2 linked regions of the Homo sapiens genome follow. The protein of the gene in region 1 purifies or fractionates together with the protein of each later gene. This does not show direct contact. Each region holds a gene or a part of one and is shown on either strand. Other genes may lie near its edges.

Region 1 (7,924 bases):
ATGTTGGCCAGGCTGGTCTCAAACTCCTGACCTCAGGTGATCTGCCTGCCTCGGCCTCCCAAAGTGCTAGGATTACAAGTGTGAGCCACCATGCCCAGCTGCATATCACTTTCTTATAGGATGCTCCAAAGGTAGTCTAGTTACCAAGAAAGAGTCATGGTGATCAAGTTTGTTTTGTTTTTTTTTAAATACTTGTCATGTATGGACACCATTCTTTTCAGCAGATTATTTGAGTGATATGTACAATAATGTGGTATGCATGGGGGATAAAGCTGTGAGCAAGACACATTTAATCCATATCCTCAAGGACCTTTGGTCTGGCCATCTAGTTCTGTAGTTGGGAGACTTTTCCTGTAAAGGACCAGACAGTGAATATTTTAGGCTTTGCAGGCCCTATGGTCTTGGTTGCAAATACTGAATTCTGCCATTGTGATGCAAAAGTAGCCACAGACATTATTTAAATAAATGAGTGTGGCTATGTTCCAATAAAACTTCATTTACAGAAATAGGCAGTGGACTTGATTTGGCCTGCAGGTTGTAGTTTGCCGACTCTTGGTCTAGTTTATTTGTTTCTTGGCCTCTGTCTCTCTTTCTTGCTCATATTCACAGCAGCAATTTTCATAGAGTTCCATTGATTTATTTGTTACAGTTATGTAGGTAAGATTGTGGAAGAACTGGATCTTTTACAACTGATAAAAGCTAACTCTTGTATTTTCTTTTACTCTTTTATCCAGGACATTTTATTTCCTTACATCGAAGAAAATGTTAAAGAGTATCTGCAGACACATTGGGAAGAAGAGGAGTGCCAGCAGGATGTCAGTCTTTTGAGGAAACAGGTTGGGACATTTCTGTCTTAAATTCCCAAGTGTCTTAGAAATGAGGGTACCTGGAGATTTAGGACATGCTCTGAGCATTTTGTAAAATAAGTGCCCTGGTTTGATAGGGGATAGAAGTTGCAGTGACTTAGTGAGTTGCCTGCTTAGGAATTCACAGTACATAATTAAAGGCTGGATCATGTCAGTTTGTTGTTTCTGGAGTTGCTCTTTGGTTGTTTTTTTTTGTTTTGTTTTGTTTTGTTTTTTTTGTTTTTTTTTGAGATGGAGTCTCACTTCGTTGCCCAGGCTGGAGTGTGGTGGTGTGATCTTAGCTCACTGCAACCTCGCTTACTGGGTTCAGGCGATTCTCCTGCCTCAGCCTCCCGAGTAGCTGGGACTACAGGCACCTGCCACCATGCCCAGCTAATTTTTTGTATTTTTAGTGGAGATTGGGTTTCACCGCATTGGACAGGCTGGTCTAGAACTCCTGATTTCAAGTGATCTACCCTCCTCGGCCTCCCAAAGTGCTGGGATTACAGGCATGAGCTTACCACCCCCAGCCCACCCAAAAAGGGCTTAAGTTTGCAAATATATGATATTGTTAGGCAATTTAAATAGCTCTAGAAAAAGGCAACTCTAGGCTGGGCACGGTGGCTCACACCTGTAATCTCAGCACTTTGGGAGGCCGAGGTGGGTGGATCACTCGAGGTCAGGAGTTTGAGACCAGCCTGGCCAAAATGGTGAAACGCTGCCTCTACTAAAAATACAAAAAATTAGGCCGGGCGCGGTGGCTCACGCCTGTAATCCCAGCACTTTGGGAGGCCGAGGCGGGCGGATCACGAGGTCAGGAGATCGAGACCATCTCGGCTAAAACGGTGAAACCCCGTCTCTACTAAAAATACAAAAAATTAGCCGGGCGTAGTGGCCGGCGCCTGTAGTCCCAGCTACTTGGGAGGCTGAGGCAGGAGAATGGCGTGAACCCGGGAGGCGGAGCTTGCAGTGAGCCGAGATCCCGCCACTGCACTCCAGCCTGGGCGACAGAGCGAGACTCCGTCTCAAAAAAAAAAAAAAAAAAAAAAAATACAAAAAATTAGCCGGACATGGTGGCGGGCACCTGTAGTCACAACTCCTTGGGAGGCTGAGGCAGGAGAATTGCTTGAACGTGGGAGGTGAAGGTTGTAGTGAGCCGAGATGGCGCCACTGCACTCTAGCCTGGGCTACAGAGCAAGACTCCGTCTCAAAAAAAAAGAGTCCTTTCTGGGTAGAATGCAAAAGGTTTTGAGCAGTCTCTACATTTTTTATTAACGTCTCTATATTAGTCTGTTCTCACATTGCTGTAAAGAAATACCTGAGAGTGGGTAATTTTTAAGAAAAGAGGTTTAATTGGCTCACAGGTCTACAGGCTATACAGGAAACATAGCGGCATCTGCTTCTGGGGAGACCTCAGGAAGCTTCTAATCATGATGGAAGGCAAAGCCGGAGCAGGCGTCTCAGATGGTGAAAGTCAGGAGCAAGAGAGTGGGGAGGGGAGGTGCTACACACTTTAAAACAACCAGAACTCACTATTGTGAGGACAGCATCAAGGAGGATGGTGCTAAACAAACCATTCACGAGAAGTCTATCCCCGCGATCCAGTCACCTCCCACTAGGCCTCACCTCCAGCACTGAGGATTACATTTCAATGTGCAATTTGGGTGGGGACACACATCCAAGCCATGTCATTCTCCATATGACAGTACTTCATCATTTTGCACTCCCTCCTTCCTTACTGCAAGCCCCTGCTGCCCCCTCTGCAGTGCTCCTGGGTCCTCACACTCACACTCCCCTTCCAGACTCCTCACCCCAGCTCACTCTGGCCCAGCCCTCATACCTCCTTTGGTCTCCTGTGCTTTGTTCTACCCTCTTCTCCCCACCAGTCATCAGTCTGTCTTTTCCTTCCACATTGTGTGCTATGGAACTCCTGCTCTGTTGTTTTTCTTGTTAAAATTGCTTCAGTGGCAAAGATCTTACATGGTCTGCAGAGCTAACTCACTGGCAGTTATTTTCTAGTTCTATATTGGATACTGTGGAATGCTCTCTGTGGATGTTTTACTGTTAGGAATTAGGATTCAAAATGTAGTTATGTCCTTTGGGCATGGAATATTTGGGATTTTAATTTTCTGGATAACTCAGGGTTAATCTGAAATACAGTGAGTCCTTACTTAATGTTGTCTTTAGGTTCTTGGAAACTAAGTGAAATGACACTTAAATTTCAATTTTCAATTTTAAACCAACCATAACAAAACCAATTTTTTCTCCACATAAATGTTATAACAAAATGATGTTGAAGGAAATGACATTACTTGAGAAGGTCATGCCACTTGAAGTCACAGTTTCCAAGAACCTTTCAATGATGTTAAATGAGGACTTACTTTACTTTCCTCCCTTACCTTTTTTTGTTGTCAAAACCTTGTTGAAACATACATACATAGTCCCCCATTATTGTATATAAATATGTACACATGTATCTTTAGAAATTGGACTGCTTTGTCACAAGGTCATTGTTCTAAGTGGCTACTAGGATTTTTGCAAGATGTGGGAGATTATAGGAGACTGAATGTGAACCAACCTCATTACTTCACTAGCTTCTTTTTGCTGAATTCCAGGCATAAACTAATTTATGAGATTTTCTTTGTTTCTTTCTCCATTAGTTATAGTGCAGAGAAAATTATCAGATTGAGTTAAAGTCCTGGTTTGTTGATCCCAGTAGTGAATCAACAAATCAAATCTTAATTCTATCATTATGTGCTCTCTCTTCTCATATACAACATGCGTCTCAGTTTAAATTTCAGCTTTTAGCAAAAGGAAAGGTAATGTAAATTTATTAATCCAGGTTCTTTTAGGAATCATTTGTATCAGCTCCAAAGTATATGATGTTTCAATTTGCAGCCATACTAGGGCTAATGATGGAGAAAGTTGTTCTGCTGGGTTTTTGGGTCTCGTTTTAAATGACTGTTTTTTGAATAAGCAAAAAACAAACATCATGTTGTTTCTGACTTAAAGGCTGAAGAGGACGCCCACCTGGATGGGGCTGTTCCTATCCCTGCAGCATCTGGGAATGGAGTGGATGATCTGCAACAGATGATCCAGGCCGTGGTAGATAATGTGTGCTGGCAGATGTCCCTGGATCGAAAGACCACTGCACTCAAACAGCTGCAGGGCCACATGTGGAGGGCGGCATTCACAGCTGGGCGCATGAAAGCAGAGTATGTGCTTGAGTCAGCCTAAACATTTCACCAGTCCCAAATCCAAATATGTTTTTTCACCAGTCCTCTCTTTCCAGCGTAAGTCACAAGACTGGTAAAACAGATAAAAATCCACACTCTTTTTAGTCTAACAAGTGAGCTTTGTTTCATTTTTTCAAAACTTGGCTAAAATATTTCAGCTGACTAGATTACCCGGACCTGCCAGTCTGGTCTTGTGGGTTGATTGAAGGACTTGTCAAAGTCTCCGTTTAAAATAGCTTCCTAGAAAATGGTGACTTCCTTGAACTAAGTCATATTTGATTCTTAGCACATGAGTGACAGCTCCGTTGGGCTGCTTGCCTGGACTGTTAATTACCTGCTTTTTGCTCTATGAGACATAGGAAATTTTGTGCCCCACCGTGTTGAGGTTACTCAGAGGATGTCCGCACTACCACGTTCTTCTTTGCTCTTTTGAGCAACTTCCACAGATTCTTTGAGTCTTGGTTATGGAGTTCCTAATAGCACTCCTGCCTGAGGAGACTTTTGAGTATTATACTTACTGAGAAATTCTTGATTGATTCAGACAGGGTCCTACTCTGTTGGCTGGAGTGCAGTGGCATGATCATGGCTCACTGCAGCCTTGACCTCCCCTAGTTCAGGTGATCCTCCCACCTCAGCCTACCGAGTAGCTGGGACTAGGCATGTGCCACCATGCCCAGCTAGTTTTTGTATTTTTAGTACAGATGGGGTTCTACCATGTTGCCCAGGCTAGTCTCAAACTTCTGGGCTTGAGCGATCTGCCTGCCTTGGACTCCCAAAATGCTGGGGTTACAGGCGTAAGTCACAATACCTGGCCTATTTTTTTTTTTTTAGAGCTGGGGTCTTGCTCTGTGATCCACACTGGAGTGCAGTGGTGCCATCATAGCTCACTGTAGCCTTCAAGTGAACCTCCCGCCTCAGCCTCCTCATTAGCTGGGACCACAGGCACGCACCACCACACCTGGCTATTCAAAAAACATTTTTGTAGAGGTGTGGTCTTGCTATGTTGTCCATACCATATTGCTGATAAATTCTTTTCGTTTGTTTGTTTCTGTTTTTGCTTTGAGACCGAGTCTTGCTCTTTGCCCAGGCTGGAGTGCAGTGGCGCAATCTCAGCTCACTGCAACTTCTACCTCCTGGGTTCAAGCGATTCTCCTGCCTCAGCCTCTGGAGTAGCCGCCTGCCACTATGCTAATTTTTGTATTTTTAGTAGACATGGGGTTTCACCATATTGGCCAGGCTGGTCTTGAACTCCTGACCTCAAGTGGTCCACCCCATCTCAGCCTCCCAAACTGCTAGGATTACAGGTATGAGCCACCCCTCCCGGCCTATTTTTGTTTTTGGAGATAGTCTCACTCTGTTGTCCAGGATGGAGTGCATTCACACAATCTTAGCTCACTGCAACCTCCGCCCTCTGGGTTCAAGCAATTCTTGTACCTCAGCCTCCCAAACAGCGGGGACTACAGGTGCGTGCCACCACACCTGGCTAATTTTTTGTATTTTAGTAGAGACAGGGTTTTATCATGTTGTCCAGGCTGGTCTTAAGCTCCTGAGCTCAGGGCAGTCCACCTACCTTGGCCTCCCAAAGTGCTAGGATTACAGGCGTGAGCCACTGTGCCAGGCCTGCTGAGAAATTCTTTTTTTTTTTTTTTTTTTGAGACGGAGTCTTGCTCTGTCACCCAGGCTGGAGTGCAGTGGCGTGATCTCAGCTCGCTGCAAGCTCCGCCTCCTGGGTTCACGCCATTCTCCTGCCTCAGCCTCCCGAGTAGCTGGGACTACAGGCGTGTGCCACCACGCCCGGCTAATTTTTTGTATTTTTAGTAGAGACAGTGTTTCACCGTGTTAGCCAGGATGCTCTCGATCTCCTGACCTTGTGATCCGCCCCCCCTTGGCCTCCCAAAGTGCTGGGATTACAGGTGTGAGCCACTGCACCTGGGTGTGAAATTCTTAAGGATTTTAGGCCATTGCCTGCTGTAAACCCTAGGATCCAAGATTGTTTCCAGCTGCATATATTTCTTTTGTGTTTCTGTCAAATGAGATGTTGTTTCTTTATTTATGTACTTTACGAGGAGCTTCTACCTTTTAAAGGATGGACTGGAATTTCAGGATATGCCAGTGATCTGGGAATATCAGCCAGGTTCACTTTGTAAAGCACTCAAAAAAGTGGAGACAGGAGACTGTGCACCCGGTAGTTAGCCCATACTTCTCTTGGTCTTGGTTCCTTAATTATACAACTAACTGCTGAAGACAGGAAAAATCCTGTCTCCATGAGTGCAAACTAGTACTCAGAATAACATACTTACATGTGTACTGGTTTTGAATACGTTGATCTCTTTCCTTCAATTAGTGCAACATGTTAAGCATGTTAATACATATAAAGCGGAAGACTCCACTGACATTTTCCAGGTAATCTTTTAGAGATGACTGGTTCTACAACCCAAGTTCTTTGTGCTTCTCTTTTCACCTTTCTCCTGTGATGTTAATTTCCTCCATGACTATGGAAAACACTAGAATTGGTAAGAGAGACTGAGTGTCAGAAGTCAGAAAAAGACATCTTTTGCTGACTGGTTAATGTGAGTTGGTACAAGTCTCAACTGACTTGTTATGTAATTTTTTCCCCATATAATAAAACATTGTTTTCTTAGTTCTCAAAAAATGCAGGCCGGGTGCAGTGGCTCATGCCTGTAATCCCAGCACTTTGGGAGGCTGAAGTGGGGGGATCACTTGAGTCCAGGAGTTTGAGACCAGCCTGGGTGACATGGCAAAGCACCATCTCTACAAAAAATTAAAAAAAAAAAAAAAAAGCTGGGGGTGGTAGCACATGCTTGTAGTCCCAACTACCTGGGAGGCTGAGGTGGGAGGATCACTCGAGCCCAGGAGGTAGAGGTTGCAGTGAGCTGAGATCATGCCACTGCACTCCAGCCTAGGCAACAGAGCAAGACCCTGTCTCAAAAAAAAGTAATTCCATTTTCTAGCTAATCATAAGTTTATAGCTTTGAGCCTTCAAACTTTGTTTTGATTATTTTGGGTGCAGATCTTTCTAAAAGCATTTCCATGCTTTCTTAAAGCACAGTGGACATAATTTAACCTTTTCTTGTCATGAAGAACATCAAAGATTATATTATATCATTGCTGTTGTTTGCTTTTTTGAGTTCTTCGGGAATTTAAAAAACACTTTCCCATTTCATCCTTTTATCTGTAGTCCCTTTTTACTGTCACTAGTGGCTGTCTGTTCAAAACTATCCTCCTTTCCACATAGATTGTTGCTTCTAATCTGCTGTGAGCCTGGAACTTGGGCAGTATGTTTATTAGAACTGCAGGAGTTTGTAGTCTCAGGGAGCTGCTTCTCAGGTTACCATGTGGGCACAAAGAGAGAAACATATGGCATCTGTTTTGACAGGTTTTTATCTGGCTAGATGAGGTGTTCCTGTATTTTAACTTAGTGGTCTTCCCTCTAGGTTCTTTGCAGATGTAGTTCCAGCAGTCAGGAAGTGGAGAGAGGCCGGAATGAAGGTGTACATCTATTCCTCAGGGAGTGTGGAGGCACAGAAACTGTTATTCGGGCATTCTACGGAGGGAGATATTCTTGAGGTAGGTTACCTAGTTTACTTTGTTGTTTTGACGCTATCAAAGCATAAAATAATGAATCTTAATGGAAAACTAATTGGAACTAATAGAATGCTTTTTTTTTTTTGGTTGTTTAAAATTAGGTAAGAAGAAAATAATCACTTTTAATTATATTGTATTTACAGTTTCTTCTATATAAGGTTGTTATATAAAGTTTATTCTGTGTCTTGAAAAATAAAATCAGTTAGGATGCAAAATAGGATTGTGCAGTCCTGAGAA
Region 2 (8,104 bases), on another chromosome or scaffold:
TACAAGCAGAACATCAACACACAAGAAGGCCCTGGGGCAGGAAAGAGCCTGCGGCACTCCAGGAGCTGAAAGGAGACCTGTGCAGCTAAAGCATATGACAGGTAGTAAATGACAATACCATCTACCTGACACCCCACAAGTAGAAATCTCCCTCTCCTCCATGTGATTAAAATGACTTCAAGAACCATACAACATTACTTGGACATATTGTATGATGGTTAAAAAAAACCACACAATAACTCTGTACATTATATTAAAATATTAATGATGCAGATAAATTGTATCTACCTAAAAATGAGCCTGCAATTCCTCTTTTCAACCTCCTCTTTCACAGTCACCCTTCTTCCACTACTGAAAGGGAAGATGGACCCTTCACCCAGCCGGAGACTCATTTTGGTGCCTTGCCCCATGGATAACAATTCAAGAATACATCCTTTCCAAGAGTGAGACCTATGACAACAAATCCAAGAAAAATTCAGCAAGAAATATTAAAGCAGCTAGCATCACGCTGACATTCAGTTTTCTTATAAATGGAAGGTTTGAAATTTAACTTAAAATTTAGATGTGAAATGTTATCAGAGGTGCATTAATAAGTGCAATAATAAGAATACAAATATCTCATTATTTTAAATGGGCAAAATATTTGAATAGACGTTTCAATGAAGAAGATACACAGATGAAAAATAAGCCCATAGATGTCCTACATTATTCATCATTAGGAAAATGCCAATTAAAACCACAATAAAATACTTACACACATCTAGTTACAATGGCTAAAACATAAAAGATTGACCATACCGAAGGCTGGCAAGGATATGGAGGAACTGAAATCCTTATGCACTGCTGGTAAAATGATACAACAACTTTGGAAAAGTTTGGCAGTTTCTTAAACAGTTAAACATACATCTACCACATGATCCAACCATTCCACTCTTAGATATTTACCCAAGAGAAATGAAGGCATACATCCATACAAAGACTTGTACTCACAGCAGCTATATTTGTAATTCACAAAAACTGGAAATAAGCCAAATGGTCATCCATGGGTGAATAGAAAAATTGTGGTACATCCATACAATGGAATACTACTCAGCAATTTTAAAAAATAAATTCTCGACATAAGCAAAACATGGATGAATCTCAAAATAGTTATAGTGAATTAAAAAAATCCAGACCACAAAAAGTACATACTATATAATTCCATTTATATAAAACTCTAGAAAATGGAAATTAATCTACAGTGACAGAAAGTACTGTACGATAGAAGGGAGGATTTACAAAAGGGCATGAGCAAATTTGTGGGTAATATTTTGTGGCTCATTATCTTGATTATGGTGATGTTTGCATGAGTGTAAACTTGTATGAAAACATCCAATTGTATACTTTAAATATGTTCAGTTTATGTCAACTATCTCTTTTTTTTTTTTTTTTTTTTTTTTGAGACGGAGTCTCATTCTGTCACCCAGGCTGGAGTGCAGTGGTGCAATCCTGGCTCACTGCAACTTCCGCCTCCCGGGTTCAAGCAATTCTCCTGCCTCAGCCTCCCGAGTAGCCGGGATTACAGGTGCACGCCACCATGCCCAGCTAATTTTTGTATTTTTAGTAAAGACGGGGTTTCATCATGTTGGTCAGGCTGGTCTCGAACTCCTGACCTTGTGATCCGCCTGCCACAGCCTCCTAAAGTGTTGGGATTACAGGCATGAGCCACTGCCTCTGGCTTTTTTTTTTTTTTTTTTTTTGAGATGGAGTTTCGTTCTTGTTGCCCAGGCTGGAGTACAATGGCGCGATCTCGGCTCTCTGCAACCTCCACCTGACAGGTTCAAGCGATTCTCCTGCCTCAGCCTCTCAAGTAGCTGGGATTACAGGCATGCGCCACCACACCTGGCTAACTTTTTTTTTTTTTTTTTTTTTGAGACTCAGTCTTACTCTGTCGCCCAGGCTGGAGTGCAGTGGCGCGATCTTGGCTCACTGCAAGCTCCGCCTCCCACGTTCACGCCATTCTCCTGCCTCAGACTCCCGAGTAGCTGGGACTACAGGCGCCCGCCACCACGCCCGGTTAATTTTTGGTATTTTTAGTAGAGACAGGGTTTCACCGTGTTAGCCAGGACGGTCTCAATCTTCTGACCTCGTGATCTGCCCGCTGCAGCCTCACAAAGTGCTGGGATTATAGGAGTGAGCCACTGCGCCCGGCCTTAATTTTTGTATTTTTAGCAGAGACGGGGTTTCACCATGTTGGCCTGGCTGGTCTCAAACTCCTGACCTCAGGTGATCCACCCACCTCAGCCTCCCAAAGTGCTGGAATTACAGGTATGAGCCACGGTGCCCATCCTATGGCAACTACACCTCAATAAAGCTGTCTACAAAATTAAAGAATGGTGAGAAGACTATTAAGTTTCATACCATTGGCTTATTCGAAGCCTAGTTCTATCAAGATTGAACATTTGTTCCTTGCCTAAACCATACAAGCTTCAAACTCCTTCACTTCCATAGCCTATCAATCCTATTTCTAGACTGTAACCTGCCCTTCCTCTTCCAAATCTGACCAGACATTTTATATGTGCTGTCAACACGAATATCCCAGAGTAAGCCATGCAAGAGTGTGGATGACTTAACTAAATGCACTGCCGCTACTTGAAAAATTTAGAGTTAAAATTTAATGAAGTTTAAACTCAGTGTAACTGACCTCTAATTGCCCTAAGTCTAAGGTCTTTTAAGAAGCTGATAGGTGCCGAGTGCAGTGGCTCATGCTGGTAATCCCAGCACTTTGGGAGGCAGGCAGATCACTTGAGGTCAGGAGTTCAAGACCAGCCTGGCCAACAGGGTGAAACCCCGTCTCTACCAAAAATATAAAAATTAGCCAGATGTGGTGGCACGCGCCTGTAATCCCACCTACTCGGGAGGTTGAGGCAGGGAGAATCGCTTGAACCCTGGAGGCAGAGGTTGCAGTGAGCCAAGATCATGCCACTGCACTTCCAGCCTGGGCAACAGAGTGAGACTCCATCTCAAAAAAACAAAAGGAAGCTGTTAGGTGAGCTATTGGTACATTAATCATATAGACAATCTTAGCAGGGTTGAAGTCTATAGGTATTGATTGATTTGACTACACTGTAAATTGTAAATAGATGCAATTTTAAGTTACCTGAATAAACTTTTCTATTCATTAACAGTAGTCATCTCAATTTTAGAGATTTACGTTATGCTCGTGCCTCCATCTGCACGCACAACATGGGAAGACAACAGACACCAAAGATACTTTGGATTCTTGCTGCTAAGTAAGTATTCAAGCACTACGTGCACGTTGTTACAATTAATAAGGCAATCTGACCCCATCCCTGCCACCAGGAAACTGCAATACTATTAATATATTAAAAAGGAAGACAACTGAGATAAAGGGAATGTGGGAGGTTGGGGGGGGTGCTTAGGAGATATCAGAATACAACCTCTTAGAATTACAGAATCTCAACAACCATCCTTTATGCCTGATCTTCGGTTCAGTAGCTCTAGGATTCCAAGGGGCCCCTCCTAACTGCATTGCCTTCTCTCCCCAATTCCCTTTCTCTCAGAATGTTACACCTTCCCCCAGTTAATAGTGTAGGCTTAAAATGTATCTAGGTGTTCTTACCTACTGACAAACTGCTGGAGTTGTTCATGGGAAAGGAATCAAGGCAAAATATCTAATGCATTCAGGTCATTCGAGTTTTCTTTTTAATTTATTGCTTTTTTGAGATGGGGCATCAGTATGTTGCCCAGGCTGAAGTGCAATAGCAGTATCTCTGCGAGACTCTGTCTCAAAAAAAACCCATTAGAGTCTTCACCTTAGGATGGACTAGGGCTATGGCATACTGGTAAGCATTTAAAAATAAAGGGGTATGATGGCCCGGATTTGCATTATCTGAGTAATGGGAATACTCCAACCCAGTCCGATTTCAAGGTCCCAGTGAGGTTACTGAATTCGAAGCTCAGAAGGTATGCGCCTAGTATTCCCACCATACGAATACAAGCGAGGTAAGTAACCTCAAAAGCATCGATAACAGTAAAATAGTTACAATACCTGTTACGCCTTTAGTATCCATTACCTTCGTTTAATTTAACTGTCAGTTTACATAACAAAAGAGTCTTTTAAGGCGTAAGCGCGCTCCTGGGGAGGGTATGGGGCTGTTGGCAGGGAAAGCAGCTTTTCGATCGTATAAATGCTCTTTGTGCCCAGACTGCCCTCTATAAATCAGCACTATCAACCCTGTCCAGAGACTTGCCCATGACCTCCAAGAAAACACTTTATTCATACTACTCCTAGCGTGCGCTCCTACCCGCCCCAGGGACTTCAGTCTTCCGGGGGAGGGATAACTACTTGGGGACACGGAGCACTGCGTACGCCCTGGGTCATGTGGGAAGGATGACCGCAAAGCCTCCAGTCGGCGCGCGGGTTCCGGGGCTGAGGGGCTGAGGGGCCCAAGGCGATAACCGGGATCCGCTCCGGCCGCGCTCCTCTTGCCTTTGAGAAGCCCCGGAAGTGGCCCGGCTGTTGGCCGCAGCGGGAGGTCTTCGGAAAGAAAAGGCCGGAACCAGAAGATAGACTCAACAGCGATGCCCTACCCGGACCCCGCCGGCCTCACACCCCGGCCAGCCAGCCGCCAGTAGTGCGCACCGCCTCCTCCCCAAGCCCCGCCCTGCGTCCACCCCAGGGGTTAACTCGCACGCGCGCTCTTGTGGCGGAGGTAGAGTGCGCCGTCCAGGGCTAGAGCAAGCGCGGCCCCGCGGCCCGGAGCCATGCTGAGGAGCTGCGCCGCGCGCCTCCGCACGCTGGGGGCTCTGTGCCTGCCGCCAGTAGGCCGGCGCCTGCCGGGAAGCGAGCCGCGACCCGAGCTGGTGAGTCTGGGCACCCTCGGGCATGGGGCGGGAGCAGGACTCAGAAACACGCCTGCGGTAACAGAGCCTTCGATTGTTATCCATACCCCAACCAGCCAATCTCAGAATAAAAGCTCACCTGGGCACCACAGGGCAGCATAAGCAACAGGGGCCTAGGAATACAGTCCTGAGATTCAAACCGTTAGAAAAGGGATGGAAAGGTGACCCCGTTTTTTTGTTTTTTAAGAGACAGGGTCGGCAGGGCGCTACCTGAACTGCATAATTTAGTCTGTCTATTTATATTTTGACAACATCTGTATTTTACCAATAATATTTGAGGCTGTTTTTATTTTTCAAAGATTAAAGTGACGTGAACTAAAAGATACCACAGCTTTTATCTTCCCTTTAAAAAAATATTTGATCCAAACGCTTATCTTCCTTTAGGTCAATTAATTAGAGATCTTTTTATAGACATCACACACAACACATATATAACTACACAGACAGGCAGAAGAAAACCCAGTTGCCATAAGATCTTTCATCACAGGGAGAGGGATCTATCTGCTTTTAATTCCTGGGGTTCCATGAGGAAAACAGAGATCGCCCCTCTTATGCAGGCATTAAAAGTGGCAAGGCAAAATGGAGAAAAATAACTCAGTCGACCGCAAAGAAACACTTTTTCCAGCAAAATAAGGTCCAAGAAAAGGAAAACATAAAGGCCTTATAAATATAATTACAACTTAGATATCTACTTTTAATTAAGCTGAGCACTCCTTAAGAAAATTCTTTTAACACCCTTATTATCTAACTTTAGCTCCACCAAGCGGCCAATATTTCTGGCTTTCAAACTTTACTTAAAGGCTCAGAGAAAGGAAAATCCAAGGTGGTTGGTGGAGGGCAGGGGAATCGACAAATAGCGAAAGGGCATACAGATACCAAACCAGAAAGGACTCATTCCCTAAGCCAGGATGAATCTGGGCCATGCCGGGCTAAACGAAGCTATGCAATGGGGTTACAGGCCACGCCCCCAAGGACGTAAAACAAGATGGAGGCCTGCAGCGAAGTTTGCTGTGGAGCATACAGAAAGACATGCAAAACACACAGATTGGCTACAGCTTACGACTTACCTCACAAATCCTTTCGCACAAAACTTTACAGAAAATATAAACGGTAATCCTCATCATTCCCAAAAGAGCAAAACGTCTTCCAAAAGGAAAAGAAAAACCTCCTTTAAAAGTATACTGCTGATGGGTTGGAGAGGAGATAAGGATGCCTGGGGGAAGAACCTCTTATTCCTATGCAAATGGTTCCTCCACCAGAGAGAGGAGCTTAATTGCTGTGGGACAGAGCTAGACTCCCTGGAATGGGGAGGGGGAGACTGCAGGCACCTGGTAGGGAACGCCAGCCAGCCATGCCGGCGCCTTGGAGCCTGGGCAGTGGCTGTGGCTCATTTATGCCCTGTGTGGCTACTGGACACCACACACACATGCTGCAGACACCACCATGCACCCCAGCCAGTAAAGAAGTGGGGCCAGGGAGCTACCCCACCCAACTGTCTTGTGAGTGCACTGGTGACCATTGGGGTGGGTGTGGACCACCTCCAGTATCGTAAAAAGAAAAATAGGTGCCGTTGCTGTCCCCCCAAAAAGAAGAGGAATGCCATAAGACCAAAAGGCTCAGAAATGAAAGTGAGAGGTTTTGAGTCCCCATTTCACTCATCCTTCTGTTGCAGGAATGAAGGAGGACTGGAGAGGCCATGGGGTGAGACAGGAGAACTTTATTGAGTGCACTCAGACCCAGCGGACTAACATCCAAAAGCTGGGCCCAGAACAAAGACAGCACTTGACTTTAATACACACTTTTAAAAGGGGGTGGGCTAGCTTGAAACAAGCTTACAGTGGCGTGAAGCATAGTGGCGTGAAAGCAAGGATACAGAGGCAGCACAAAGGCAATTAATTCATCAAATTGTGACAGGTGCATAATTCAGGATTACATACTGTGTCGGAATTGATGGGTTCTTGGTCTCACTGACTTCAAGAAAGAAGCCACGGACCCTCGTGGTGAGTGTTATAGTTCTTAAAGGCGGCATGTCCGGCGTTTGTTCCTTCTGATGTTCGGATGTGTTCAGAGTTTCTTCCTTCTGGTGGGTTCATGGTCTTGCTGGCTCAAGAGTGAAATTGCGGACCTTCGTGGTGAGTGTTATAGCTCTTAAGGCAGCACGTCTGGAGTTGTTCGTTCCTCCCGGTGGGTTTGTGGTCTCGTTGGCTTCAGGAGTGAAGCTGCAGACCTTCGCGGTGAGTGTTACAGCTCATAAAGGCAGTGTGGACCCAAAGAGTGAGCAGCAGCAAGATTTATTGCAAAGAGCGAAAGAACAAAGCTTCCACAGTGTGGAAGGGGACCCGAGCGGGTTGCCACTGCTGGCTTGGGCAGCCTGCTTTTATTCTCTTATCTGGCCCCACCCACATCCTGCTGATTGGTAGAGCCAAGTGGTCTGTTTTGACAGGGCCCTGATTGGTGCATTTACAATCCCTGAGCTAGACACAAAGGTTCTCCACGTCCACACCAGATTAGCTAGATACAGAGTGTCAACACAAAGGTTCTCCCAGTCCCCACCAGAGTAGCTAGATACAGAGTGTCGATTGGTGCATTCACAACCCCTGAGCTAGACATAGGGTGCTGATTGGTGTGTTTATAAACCTTGAGCTAGATACAGAGTGCCGATTGGTGTATTTACAGTCCTTTAGCTAGACATAAAGGTTCTCCAAGTTCCCACTAGACTCAGGAGCCCAGCTGGCTTCACCCAGTGGATCTCGCACTGGGGCTGCAGGTGGAACTGCCTGCCAGTCCCACGCTGTGTGCCCACACTCCTCAGCCCTTGGGTGCTCGATGGGACTGGGCGCCGTGGAGCAGGGGGCAGCACTCATCAGGGAGGCTCGGGCCGTGCAGGAGCCCACGGAGGGCGTGGGAGGCTCAGGCATGGCAGGCTGCAGGTCCCGAGCCCTGCCCCGCCAGAAGGCAGGTAAGGCCCAGTGAGAAATCGAGCGCAGCGCCAGTGGGCCGGCACTGCTGGGGGACCCAGTACACCCTCTGCAGCCACTGGCCCGGGTGCTAAGCCCCTCATTGCGTGGGGCCGGCAGGGCCGGCTGGCTGCTCCGAGTGCAGGGCCCGCCAAGCCCACACCCACCTGGAACTCCAGCTGGTCCACAAGCACCCCGCGCAGCCCTGGTTCCTGCTCGCGCCTCTCCCTCCACACCTTCCT

What was found.
Region 2: the proteins of ENOPH1 (region 1) and THEM4 purify together in Homo sapiens (affinity purification with mass spectrometry; 2 studies listed by BioGRID and IntAct, with this or other methods). This does not show direct contact.

The regions. Positions count from the first base shown.
Region 1 is NC_000004.12:82,447,186-82,455,109, forward strand, and holds part of ENOPH1 (enolase-phosphatase E1), read left to right. Parts: intron 1-734; coding exon 735-836; intron 837-3,857; coding exon 3,858-4,060; intron 4,061-7,536; coding exon 7,537-7,669; intron 7,670-7,924. UniProt on the Homo sapiens protein: Bifunctional enzyme that catalyzes the enolization of 2,3-diketo-5-methylthiopentyl-1-phosphate (DK-MTP-1-P) into the intermediate 2-hydroxy-3-keto-5-methylthiopentenyl-1-phosphate (HK-MTPenyl-1-P), which is then dephosphorylated to form the acireductone 1,2-dihydroxy-3-keto-5-methylthiopentene (DHK-MTPene).
Region 2 is NC_000001.11:151,906,122-151,914,225, reverse strand, and holds the start of THEM4 (acyl-coenzyme A thioesterase THEM4), read left to right. Parts: upstream 1-4,714; 5' UTR 4,715-4,767; coding exon 4,768-4,866; intron 4,867-8,104. UniProt on the Homo sapiens protein: Has acyl-CoA thioesterase activity towards medium and long-chain (C14 to C18) fatty acyl-CoA substrates, and probably plays a role in mitochondrial fatty acid metabolism. Plays a role in the apoptotic process, possibly via its regulation of AKT1 activity.